2 separate regions of the Homo sapiens genome follow, and region 2 is linked to region 1. The links come from fine-mapping of genetic effects on gene expression. Tissue or cell type: whole blood. Region 1 holds a variant in brackets; the other region holds the start of a gene. All regions are shown on one strand. Distances are from middle to middle.

What was found. PIP is the estimated chance that this variant, and not a neighbour inherited with it, causes the effect.
Region 2: it holds the start of ST8SIA6, and the variant in region 1 is fine-mapped to the expression of ST8SIA6 in whole blood (TOPMed, PIP above 0.99).

The regions. Positions count from the first base shown.
Region 1 is chr10:17,506,221-17,511,653 of GRCh38, reverse strand. No RefSeq gene overlaps it. Among named protein-coding and RNA genes, the nearest start is that of ST8SIA6, 54 kb to the right of the region's middle. The variant A/C (reference allele first, on the strand shown) is at 2,384.
Region 2 is chr10:17,451,618-17,457,050 of GRCh38, reverse strand. ST8SIA6 (ST8 alpha-N-acetyl-neuraminide alpha-2,8-sialyltransferase 6) reads left to right here and starts at 2,456. Exons shown (of 8, transcript NM_001004470.3): 1 at 2,456-2,896; 2 at 3,394-3,492. The coding sequence starts at 2,796.

The DNA.
Region 1 (5,433 bases):
GTTTTCTGCAGTAGTATTGATAATTCAAAGTTAATTCAACTTTTCCCCCTACAACTTCCAGAAACAGATGCAGAAATTCAAACCATAACAAATACTTTCTGAAGTGACAATGAGTCATATCAGAAGTGTGATGATCACGCAGATGGGCTGATATAACTCATGATCACCCATCCGGACTGTGGACGTTCTTGTTTTTCAAACGTATTTGAATGCGTTTGATAAAAGCTGTAAATTTCTGGCTAGTCTGTAAATTGCAAGCATTCTCTTTGGGGCTTACATGTCTACTTCCCTTAGCTGGGATCAGCGACTTCTCTTGGGCCTTTCCTCCAGCAGGCTGGGTCCCCTCTCTGTACAGAAGTTAAAAGGATGTTGTCAAGCACAGAAAGGTAAAGTACGTGGAGAAGCAAGAGACTGAGGTTCTTGTCTTCTCTCCACCATTTAGTGGCCACGCAATCTGGATAAGTCACTTAACCTTACTGGATAAAAAATGCCTTCGCTACCGAAGATGGGAACTGGACCAAATAATCCCTTAGGCTCACTGCAAAACAGCAATACTTCTATCCAGCTGCTAAAATTTTGTACGATGTCTCTGGGCAGGATTATTGTCTTTTAACATTCCCTTCTTTTTTCAAATATTATACAATGATAATTTATTGCTAGTTAAAATTATTTAACCAAGAATTTGCACTATTAGTACTTCTTTTTTTCCCCAGCTAAAGAATTGCTGAAATGTTGGCATTACAAATTTAAGAATTTTTGCTAACATAACTCTGCTTTCCATATGTTATTTCAAAAATGGGCTGGGCATAGTGGCTCATACCTGCAATCCTGGCACTTTGGGAGTCTGAGGCAGGAGGATCGCTTGAGCCTGGGAGGTCGAGACCAGCCTGGACAACATAGCAAGACCCCATCTCTACAAAAAAAAAATCAGATGGGCATGTTGGCACGTGCCTGTGGTCCCAGCTACACAGGAGGCTGAAGCAGGAGGATTGATTGGGCCCAGGAAATCAAGGCTGCAGTGAGCTGTATTTGTGACACTGCACTCCAGCCTGGATGACACAGTGAGACCCTGTCTCAAAAAAAATTTTTTTAATGTAGTAAAATGTGTAGAATTAATGATCTTGATCCTAAATCATTAGCAACACTGTCAACTTGAAGCACTAGAACAGAAAAGAGAAGCTGTTCTCTGGTATCACAAAGGCCACCAAAACTCTTGTTTGCGGTTAGTGCTGTGAGAGGTTCAACTTTAGAGTCCCAAGTTCCTTGTGGGTTGTGAGACCACAGGCCAGTTTTTTAGTATCTCTTTTTTGCTACCTGTAAAAGGAGAGTTGCTTTATGAATTAAATAACTGCAAAGCTTTATAGATAGCGTCACACTGTAAAGGGTAGATATTTACCAGCATTTTATAAATTAATTGTGCTAACAGAAGGAAATTCTTTTCCAATATTTTTTTCTCTGATTAAAAATATTTTTATTTGTCATATCATAGTCTCTGGCTACAGATTGCCAAATACAAGCTGTTATTTTATTTGCAATAATTTTCATTATCTTAAATTCAAATCTCGATATAATGTGATACATTTGCTATGTTTTGATTCTTTAAAACAGGATGTTTTTATTAGAATAGTCGTACTCTAGCCACAGTAAGAATGAAAAAATTGAAAGACTCAAAAACAAGTCATCATTACTTTGTTTATTTTCATCCAAGTATAATACGTACTTGAATATCATCTCTAAAATACCATTTCTACCAAATGAATTTGTTCACTAGTGTGGAAATATAGAAGGGAAAATAAAATTAAGGAAACTTTTAAGGAATTATTAGAAGTTAGACGTGTGTTTTTGACAACAAAGCAGTGGAAATGCCTCAACACTGTGAACAATTTAATAGGGTAATATTTTAAAATCTATACTTTAATAAATATCAATTATATACACAATTAAGTTGGTTTTTCAAGAACCTGATCTAGACACAAAAACAAGGATGTGCAAATCCCAATTTAAATTTTTTTATTTCATTACATACAGAATATTTTACTAAAGTTGCTTAATATACAATCTCTCTCTTGTCGCTTTGAAGACCTTTGTCATGAAAACAATAATTCATTTGCCTGATATTTTGCAATAACATTCTTCTCAGTTATTATATTTAGTCTCATTACTGAATAAAATTTGTGTTCTCATGAAACAGTTTTCAGTGTCTTAGCAGTTTCTGGGGAACTCTGATGCATTAATCAGCTTGTCACTTGACTAGCCCATAGAGTGGTGTGCCATGCAGAAGTGAGAAGATGTGGCTTTCTCACTGCAAAGCTTCCCATCCATTAGACTTGTGTGTATCTTTTCTGTCAGGAAATGTTCTGCAGTTTTGAGATAAGATTGCTTC[A/C]TGTCTGACTGCTTAGTTGGCAATGATCACAGCTTGTGAGTTCGGTTTCACCAAAAATGTCCGTGGACCTCACCTGTAAACTTTAATCCATGCACTTTTTTTTTCTTTGAGGTGTAGTCTTGCTCTGTTGCCCAGGCTGGAGTGCAGTGGCACGATCTCAGCTCACTGCAACCTCTGCCTCCTGGGTTCAAGCAATTCTCTGCCTTAGCCTCCCGAGTAGCTGGGATTACAGGTGCCTGCCACCATGCCGGGCTAATTTTTTGTATTTTTAGTAGAGATGGGGTTTCACCAGCTTGGCCAGGCTGGTCTTGAACTCCTGACCTTGTGATCCACCCCCTTGGCCTCCCAAAGTGCTGGGATTACAGGTGTGAGCCACCACACCCAGCCTATTCCATGTACTTCTTACTTTGCCTTCCCTGGGAAATCAGTTTCCTGGAATATACCAAGGGGCACATTCTACTCCTTTTGCAGCATTCCCAGAAAACCATCGGCGTCCATGCATATGTATACATGTTTGCATATGCATGAACATAGTCATTCATTCTGGCTTCCTTTTCGAGTGGCTTGCGTCATTCTGCCGTGTATTTCCAGAGATTTCCCAGAGATTCCCCAGCGCCCCTCTGATGACTGGCTTATTAGCTTTGCTTGCCTTCATGTCTCTGTATCAATTTCCCCCGTCACCTATCTGTATTCCTTGCACCTTTCAAAAGACTGCCATTTTAGTCCCTTCCCCCAAACCCTGCAAACAGGAATGAGCTATTGTTTCTGTGTTGTATCGTTCAGCTTTCTGGGATTCTGCCATACGGTCTAAGTTTGGAAGTGTTCAGAAAACCCTTCAACTCAATCCCAGTTTGTCTGCTCTTTCTTCATCGTGTCAGAACTGGCAATGGCGTTCTGGTGGCTTGGATGGATACCGCTTTACTGCCTGATATAGTTTGGCTGTGTCCCCACCAAAATCTCATCTTGAATTGTAGCTCCAATAATTCCCATGTGTTGTGGGAGGGACCTGGTGGGAGGTGAATTACAGGGATGGTTTCCCCCATACTGTTCTTGTGGTAGTGAATAAGGCTCCCAAGATCTGATGGTTTTATAAGGGAAACCTCTTTCACTTGGTTCTCGTTTTTCTCTCGTCTGCCACCATGTAAGAGATGCCTTTCGCGTTCCGCCATGATTGTGAGGCCTCCCCGACCAGGTGGAACTGTGAGTCAATTAAACCTCTTTTTCTTTATAAATTATCCGGTCTTGCATATGTCTTTATCAGCAGCATGAAAATGGACTAATAAACTGCACATCTTTCAGGAAGCCACTGACTTACCCAGAAGTTTGTCCACACATCTGGTCTACTCACCAATCAAGGCACATATGTTGTCAAACTAGCTCTTCATTGTCACTGGGGACAGAGAACCTATTTCAATTCTCCATCTATTATTAAAGACTGTTATTTCTCATAATTCGCTGGGCTCAGTTGAGATGTTCTTCTGCTCCAGTGAGTGCGTGCTATGGTCACTCCTGTAGCTGCATTTAGTTTCTGCTGAGGCAGCAACATTCAAGTTGAGGTTGGTCGTTCACACATCTGGTACCTCAGCTGGGTGATGGGACTGGCTCGGCCTCTGTTTCTTTTCTTTTTAAATTTTTTTTTTTTTTTCAGAGAGAGGGGTCTGCTCTGTGGCCCAGGCTGGGGTGCAGTGGTGCAGTCATAGCTCACTGCAGCCTTGAACTCCTGGGCTCAAGTGATCCTCCTGCCTCAGTCTCTCAAGTAGCTGGGACTACAAGCACACACCACCATGTCCAGCTAATGTTTTATTTTCTATAGAGATTGGGTTTTGCTGGCCTGGAACTCCTGGCCTCAAGCGATTCTCCTGCCTTGACCTCCCAAAGCACTGGAATTACAGGCATAGACCACTGTCTCCATGTGGTTTCTCACCATGTTATAGTCTAGCCTATAATAAATGGCTTCCAAGAAAGCGAAAGTGGAAGCTACAAGTTCTTTTAAGGCCTTGGCTTAGAAGTCTAGGTGAAGTGATGTCCCATCACTTCCATTATGTTCTCTTGGTCAAAGCAAGATACAGCATAGCCCAGATTCAAGGGGGAGAGAGATAGATTGATGAATCTTGATGAAAGGAGTGGCTTGCACATTCAGGGACTGTGGCAATTATTGGCAACCATCTTTGGAAATGATCTACCATTGCACCTAATCACCCTCACTGGTGGTCAAAACATCTTGTTTCTTCTCCTTTCCTAATTACTTTGACTACTCTGGCCAGAGATTTACTTCCCATTTTCACTGGGTCTTCAATCTACAAAAGCTAGTCCTCTCTTGATAATATGCCTCTTTTATACATATTCGACAGGGCATAGCAGTACCAGTGGGTATGCAGCAGAGATATCACTTATATAACAGCATTGGTAGTACCTTTGGTAATTATTTAAATAGTTCCTTTTGTGCTTAAATCTAATTAATTATTTAAAACAAAACAAAACAAAACAAAAAAACTGTAGACTTCTCAAGATGAATCTGTTTACATAGTCTTTACGAGAACCTGGAAACTTTGCTGTAGCTATTCAACTGTTCCTGTCATATAATCCTCTTCGCGTCATTTTATAAGAGGCACACATAACAGGAAGTTCGAGCTGACTACTTGCAAAATTAGCCTCCTTTTCCTAGAATTTTAATGGGTGTGAGATCTAAGAAATTTATAGTTGCTCTTCTGGAGCTGCTGCTTGAAGCAACTAGTTGGCTTTGTCCTTGGGGAAACCTGTCGAGCCTTTCTGTCTCATTATCTCTCAGAGTTTTCTCCTAATGGAATAGGACGATGGACCTTAATGGTTTATCCTTCTTTCCCCATCCCCTCTCCTCAGAGAGTGCTTCTTGAATTAAAAACAGGTAGGAGATCAGTCTTCATGTAGAAGTGTTTCTTCCTTTTTTATCTTTTTTATTCTCCTCCTTTTTTTTTTTTTTGAGACAGAGTCTCACTCTGCTGCCCAGGCTGCAGCGCAATGGCATGATTTCAGCTCACTGAAACCTCTGCATCCTGGGTTCAAGCAATTCT
Region 2 (5,433 bases), 55 kb after region 1:
CAGTGCAAGGCTGACTCTTCTGCTGTTGCCTTGAGCCCAGCTGTGCTGAAATATTAAACTTTAGTAAATTAGGTGAAATTGCAGCTTCCTGGCTGATACAATAATGCCTTTTTCTTTTTCTGCAAACCATGTTCAGCATTAGTTTTCTGCACAATTTTCTGCACTGAGATAAAAATTGGAATATCTTTCAAATCCAGGCAACTCTTCATTTTCTAGATGATTGTGCCATATTCTACTTATTTAACAAACGGCTTAAACTTTGAAATATGTAGAACTAGATTTCTGTATTATTCTATCACTACCTGAGTATAGCATTACTTTATGTCATACTCAGATGAAGCAACTGAATCCCTACAAATATTAGTTTTATATAAAAGTAGAAGCCTGTTTTTATTCCTGATTAGTACATATATTAACAGCAGTGATGAGCTATAGAAGGAAATCACATTCCTAGTCACATTTATTTTTAGTTTTTTTGCTCCATTTTCTCTTTAAAAATAACACTAGTTCTTATGTGCTTTTATTCATTGACTAAACATTTATTGATCAATTATTATGTGCAAACTTCTGTTTTGTATTCAACAAGATGTTTTTAGAGTAAATCCGGAATTAGCAGAAAGAGACTAGGGACACTGGTATCTCTTGCCTTGATATATGTTTTCTTGTGATGGAATCTTTGGTGACAGCTTTATTTGGCTGTCTGGCCTGGTTGCTCCCAAATGGCTCTCACTTGGGCCTCTTTCAGGTGAAGACCATATGCTTCTAGGAGATGTCAGTTGAAATATCATATTTTTGTTGCTTGGGAAAGTTAACTCATGAAAGCCTTTTCAAAATTGAAGTCATTTCAAAAGATCTTATCAAGGTACTCCCAAGATGGTGGAATCCAAGGGTTGCATTTGGAAAAATCTCGAAACTATACAAAAGTAAGAGTGAATAATTTTATAAGCCTGCATATAACCACAATGGAATTAAAACCTAGGGAAGTGGCTAAGTGGGGGCTTGGGCAGTCAGGATAGTTTAGGGCATAGAGAGTTGAGACCCACTTTTAAAAAAATAGAGAGCCAGTCTGTTTCATAGTGTCATTGGATCACTCTCCTGCAACAGATGAGATACTCGTAAATGAGATACTAACCAATATGATCTAGACCGTGGTTTAGTTCTGGCTGCCATAAGAAGGATACCATAGGCTGGGTGACCGAAAGAACAGAAATTTATTTTTCACAGTTCTGGAGGGTAAGAAACCCAAGATCAGTGTGCCAGCATGGTCAGGTTCTGGTGAGGGTCCTCTTCCTGCTTGGCAGAAAGCTGCCCTCGTGCTGTGTCTTTACACTGCACAGAGCAGAGAGAGAGGAGGCAAATTCCCCGCTGCCTGCTCTTATGAGGGAACTAATTCCACCAGGAAGCCTCCACCCCATGAACTAATCAGGTATGAAAGGCCCCACCTCCAGATACCACCACATTAGATTGGGGATTTGGGTTTCAACATATGAATTTTGTAGAGACACAAACATTCAGCCCATAGCAGTGTTAAAAGAAAAACATCAGACAAATTAAATTTAGCACAGTTTATTCGAGCAAAGGGTTCATGAATTGGGCAGCACTCACAACCAGAGGAGGTCCAGTGAGGTCCACCCCATGGTGTGAGCAGCAAAGCCTGATAGGCCAAACTCAGAAGCACAGTGGAGAAACTGATTGGCTATAGCTATGCAGGCTGCCTTGTGGGGCCTGGTATAATGAGTTGGTTGCCCATGATTGGCCAGTAGCCCCCTGTTCATTACAGCCTAATGTAGGTTTCCATTGTTAGGTGGGAACTCAACGTACAGAGACAGCCTCAAGCTAATGGCCTCTTGCTTATTTAAGAGCAGTATGCAAACTTTTCCTGGAAAGTTTCAAATGGTAAATATTTTAGGCCCTGTGGGCTATGCCACCTCTGTCATCACTACTCAATTCTGCCCTTGCAGCCCTAGATCATACAGCCATATGCAGTCACTGATAATACAAAGCCATGGGCATGGAGGTTTTCCAATAAAACTATTTGCAAATACAGGCAGGGGCTAAACGGGTCTCCAGGTAGTAATGTGCTCATGCCTAAAGGTCTCCTAGCCCCTCATACCAGTTCGCTGTCCCTCTGAATCTGGGTTGAAGTAAGCACAGGTTACTGCTTCTGTTCAGTGTCATGATCCACCCAGCAATTCCCCAGTCCCCAGCTTTCTTCATGCGTGGGAGGATCCAGCCAAGCGACTGCACAGTTTTGAAAGTTTTTGAAGCGGCCCCTTTTTCTCCTCTCCTCTCTCCGCAGGCAGAGTTGTGGTGTGGCTGGGTGGTCTGCGTGGGCGTCCGGGGGATTCGCGGGCACTCGGGACGAGGCGAGGGCGCAGAAAACTTGGAGCCCAATCAGCACGGAGTTGAGCTTCCGCGCCCCAACCTTCAGGTGACCCCGCGCGGCGGCGGCGGCAGCAGCAGTGGCAGCGGCGACCGGAGCCCGCAGCAGCTCCGAGCGCCTCCGGGAGGACAGGCGGCGAGCTCGGCGAATCGTCATCTGCCAGCCGATCGCGGCGCTCCGCGGGCCGGGGCCGGGAGCCCGGGGCGAGCCCGAACGCGGCTTCTTCTCCGCCCGCCGCGGAGACTCTGCCGGGTGGGCTGCGGGCGCCCCTCGCTGCCGCCTGTGAACGCTGTGGGTGCGCGGGGCTGCGGCCACGGCGGCGGTGGCGGCGGCGGCGGGAGCCGCGAGTCGGGGCCGCCCGGGCTGTGCTTCGCCCCGGCAGCAGCGGTGGCGGCGGCGCCTGTGGCTCAGGATGCGGCCGGGGGGCGCACTGCTCGCCCTGCTCGCCAGCCTGCTGCTGCTGCTGCTGCTGCGCCTGCTCTGGTGCCCGGCAGACGCGCCCGGCCGCGCCAGGTAACCCACCCACCCGCCGGCCGCGCCCCGCGCCGCGCGCCCCGCCTGGCGCCCCCGGACCCCCAAGCCGCCCATCGCTTCCCCTCGGGCGCGGAGACTTTTGGCCGCGGCGGGGAGCAGCCCACGGGCGGCGACGGCCTGAGAGTGGAGTGGGGGAGGGGGTCGCAGGGAGGCGACCCTCCGACCGGTGGACGGCGGCTGGGGAGCAGAGGGACCGGTCAGGGCTGCGGGGGCTCTAGCGCGCATCGCTGTGGGCGAGGCAGCTGTGGAGCGGGACCTGCCGTCGGGTTCCGCATCAGGATCTCATGCTCCCCATTCTGGTCCTTGCTGTCTCTTCCTTCCCGCCCTAAGGCTCTTCCAACTCTGGGGCTGGGGACCTGGCCTGGGAGCCGGGGAGTGCGAGATCTCCCTGCCAGGCAAGGAGCGCGACTCCCAGCCTTTCAGCCAACAGCTCCCGGCGGGGTGTAGCAACTTAAGTTTTCTCCCCGGCTGTGCAGGATTCTGGTGGAGGAAAGCAGGGAGGCCACCCACGGCACCCCCGCAGCGCTGAGGACGCTCCGGAGCCCGGCGACCGCGGTACCGCGCGCCACTAACAGGTACAGCGGCGCCCAGCGCGGGCGGACTGGGGCTCGGGAGCTGCGAGCCGGGCATGGGGCGCGGCTGCACCGGCTTGGACTCGTTGGGAGTAGGCAGGCTGGGACGGCGCGAGTGAGTGTAAGAGTGTGCGTGTGTTTGAAGAGGGCGCGGGGTTGGGGGGGGGCACCCTTCACACTCCCTCAACCCTCTAAGCCTGGATGTGAATGGTCTTTGAATCAAGGGGGATCCTCCAGCAGCTGCATTTGAAAAACGGGTGCTGAGTTTTCCTCTCGACAATGGTGTGTTGAAAGCACCCCCGCCCCCGACCCCGCCACCTTTGGAGAGAAGCAGCTCAGCCTGTCTTTATGGAGGGATTTGGTTGGTTTGCTTTTTCTTTTCTATGCTTTAAAGGGCACCGGTGTTAAGATTCAGGTTTGTTTTGCGTGCTAGGAATGATTTTGTCCTTAGTGACTGGAGGCTTAAATTTTTTTTCTTATCATTCACATGTGTTTTTATTCATAGGCAGTAATTGTTTTTTTTTCAGATTGTAAAAGTAATACAGCTTTGTGCAGAAAGTTAGAAAATAGAACTGTATAAAAGAAAATGTTATTCATTCAGAGTCCTTACCTCTCAGAGACCATATTCAAGGTGGTTTTGGTCTATATTTCTTCCAGTAGTCTTTTCTATATACATATATTTCAAAAATATAACTTAGATTATACATTGCAGTTTATGTTCTGCCTTTTTTCTAAAAATCCTAGACCTATACCTGTCATTACATTCCCCTCCCCCCACAAAAACATTGCTTTGGATTGTTGCATAACTTATTATCTGAACATGCCATAATCTATTTAATAGTTTCCATTTTCAGACATTTAGGTTGCTTCTTGTTTCTGTTTTATTTTGTTTGCCATCAGTAATTCTATGAAATGCATCCTTGTATGTAAATCTTTATCTTCATTTCAAATTAATTACCCAAGATGGACAGACAGGAGTTGAGATTAGTAAGTCAAAGAGTATGTACTCTTTAGATTCTAAGTCACATTGTCAGTTGCTTCCTCGAAGGGCTGAATCAATTTACATTTTCACAAGCAGAATGTACTGCTTCCTGCCTTAGCATTGCTATTATGATTGCAATCTGCTATACGGTCTCTTTTCCTCTTTTTATCTCTTGCAAATCCCTTTTCTTCTGCGTATGCTTCTCTATATTCTTGGCTCTTGGATCCACCTTAATCTTCTGATGGTGTAACTCCAGGAAGCTCTAGCACGGCTCTAAGAAGGGTCTGGAAGTGGCTGGATAAACCCTGAATTGAGGAACACCACTGCCTGCCACCCCCTCATTGGAATTTCACAGCATATTAGAGGCACTAGGACCTCCTGGAGTAACAAAAGCTTTTGAGAAAAATAGTGTCCTATAGTTTTATTCTATTCAGGTTGGTGTACTATAGGTAGCCTAGCTTTCTTGATGAGCTGAGAAGCATTCCATCTTTTCCCGAGTCCTGTGGCTATTACACATTCGAGGGTTGACCCTTGGGGAAAGTTGGAAAGAATGTACTCATTAAATGGTTTGATCTCAGGTCGTTTTTAGAGGTAATCTTTGATGAATTTTTCACTTTCTTTTGACATACTTCTTTTCTACTTGGCATACTTCTTGGGCTAATATAGGTAACTCATAATTCTGAATATGGCCCATTTTATTAAGCTTTCTAAAATTTATACCATTCTGTGTTTGTAAAAGCCTCTTTATGTTTTGATTTATTTTATGTCCCCTTTATCATTTATGATTTTGGTTATTTATGGAGCAGGGGTGCAAGTTTTAATCCACCATACTACTTGGTTGTATAGAGAAATTGTAATTTCTTCATTTTTCTGGAGCTGGTCTGATCTTCCCACATGAGCCTCATGGTAATAATGCTGGTAGGAATAAGGAGAGCCAACAGTTAATGAACTCTTCTTATGGG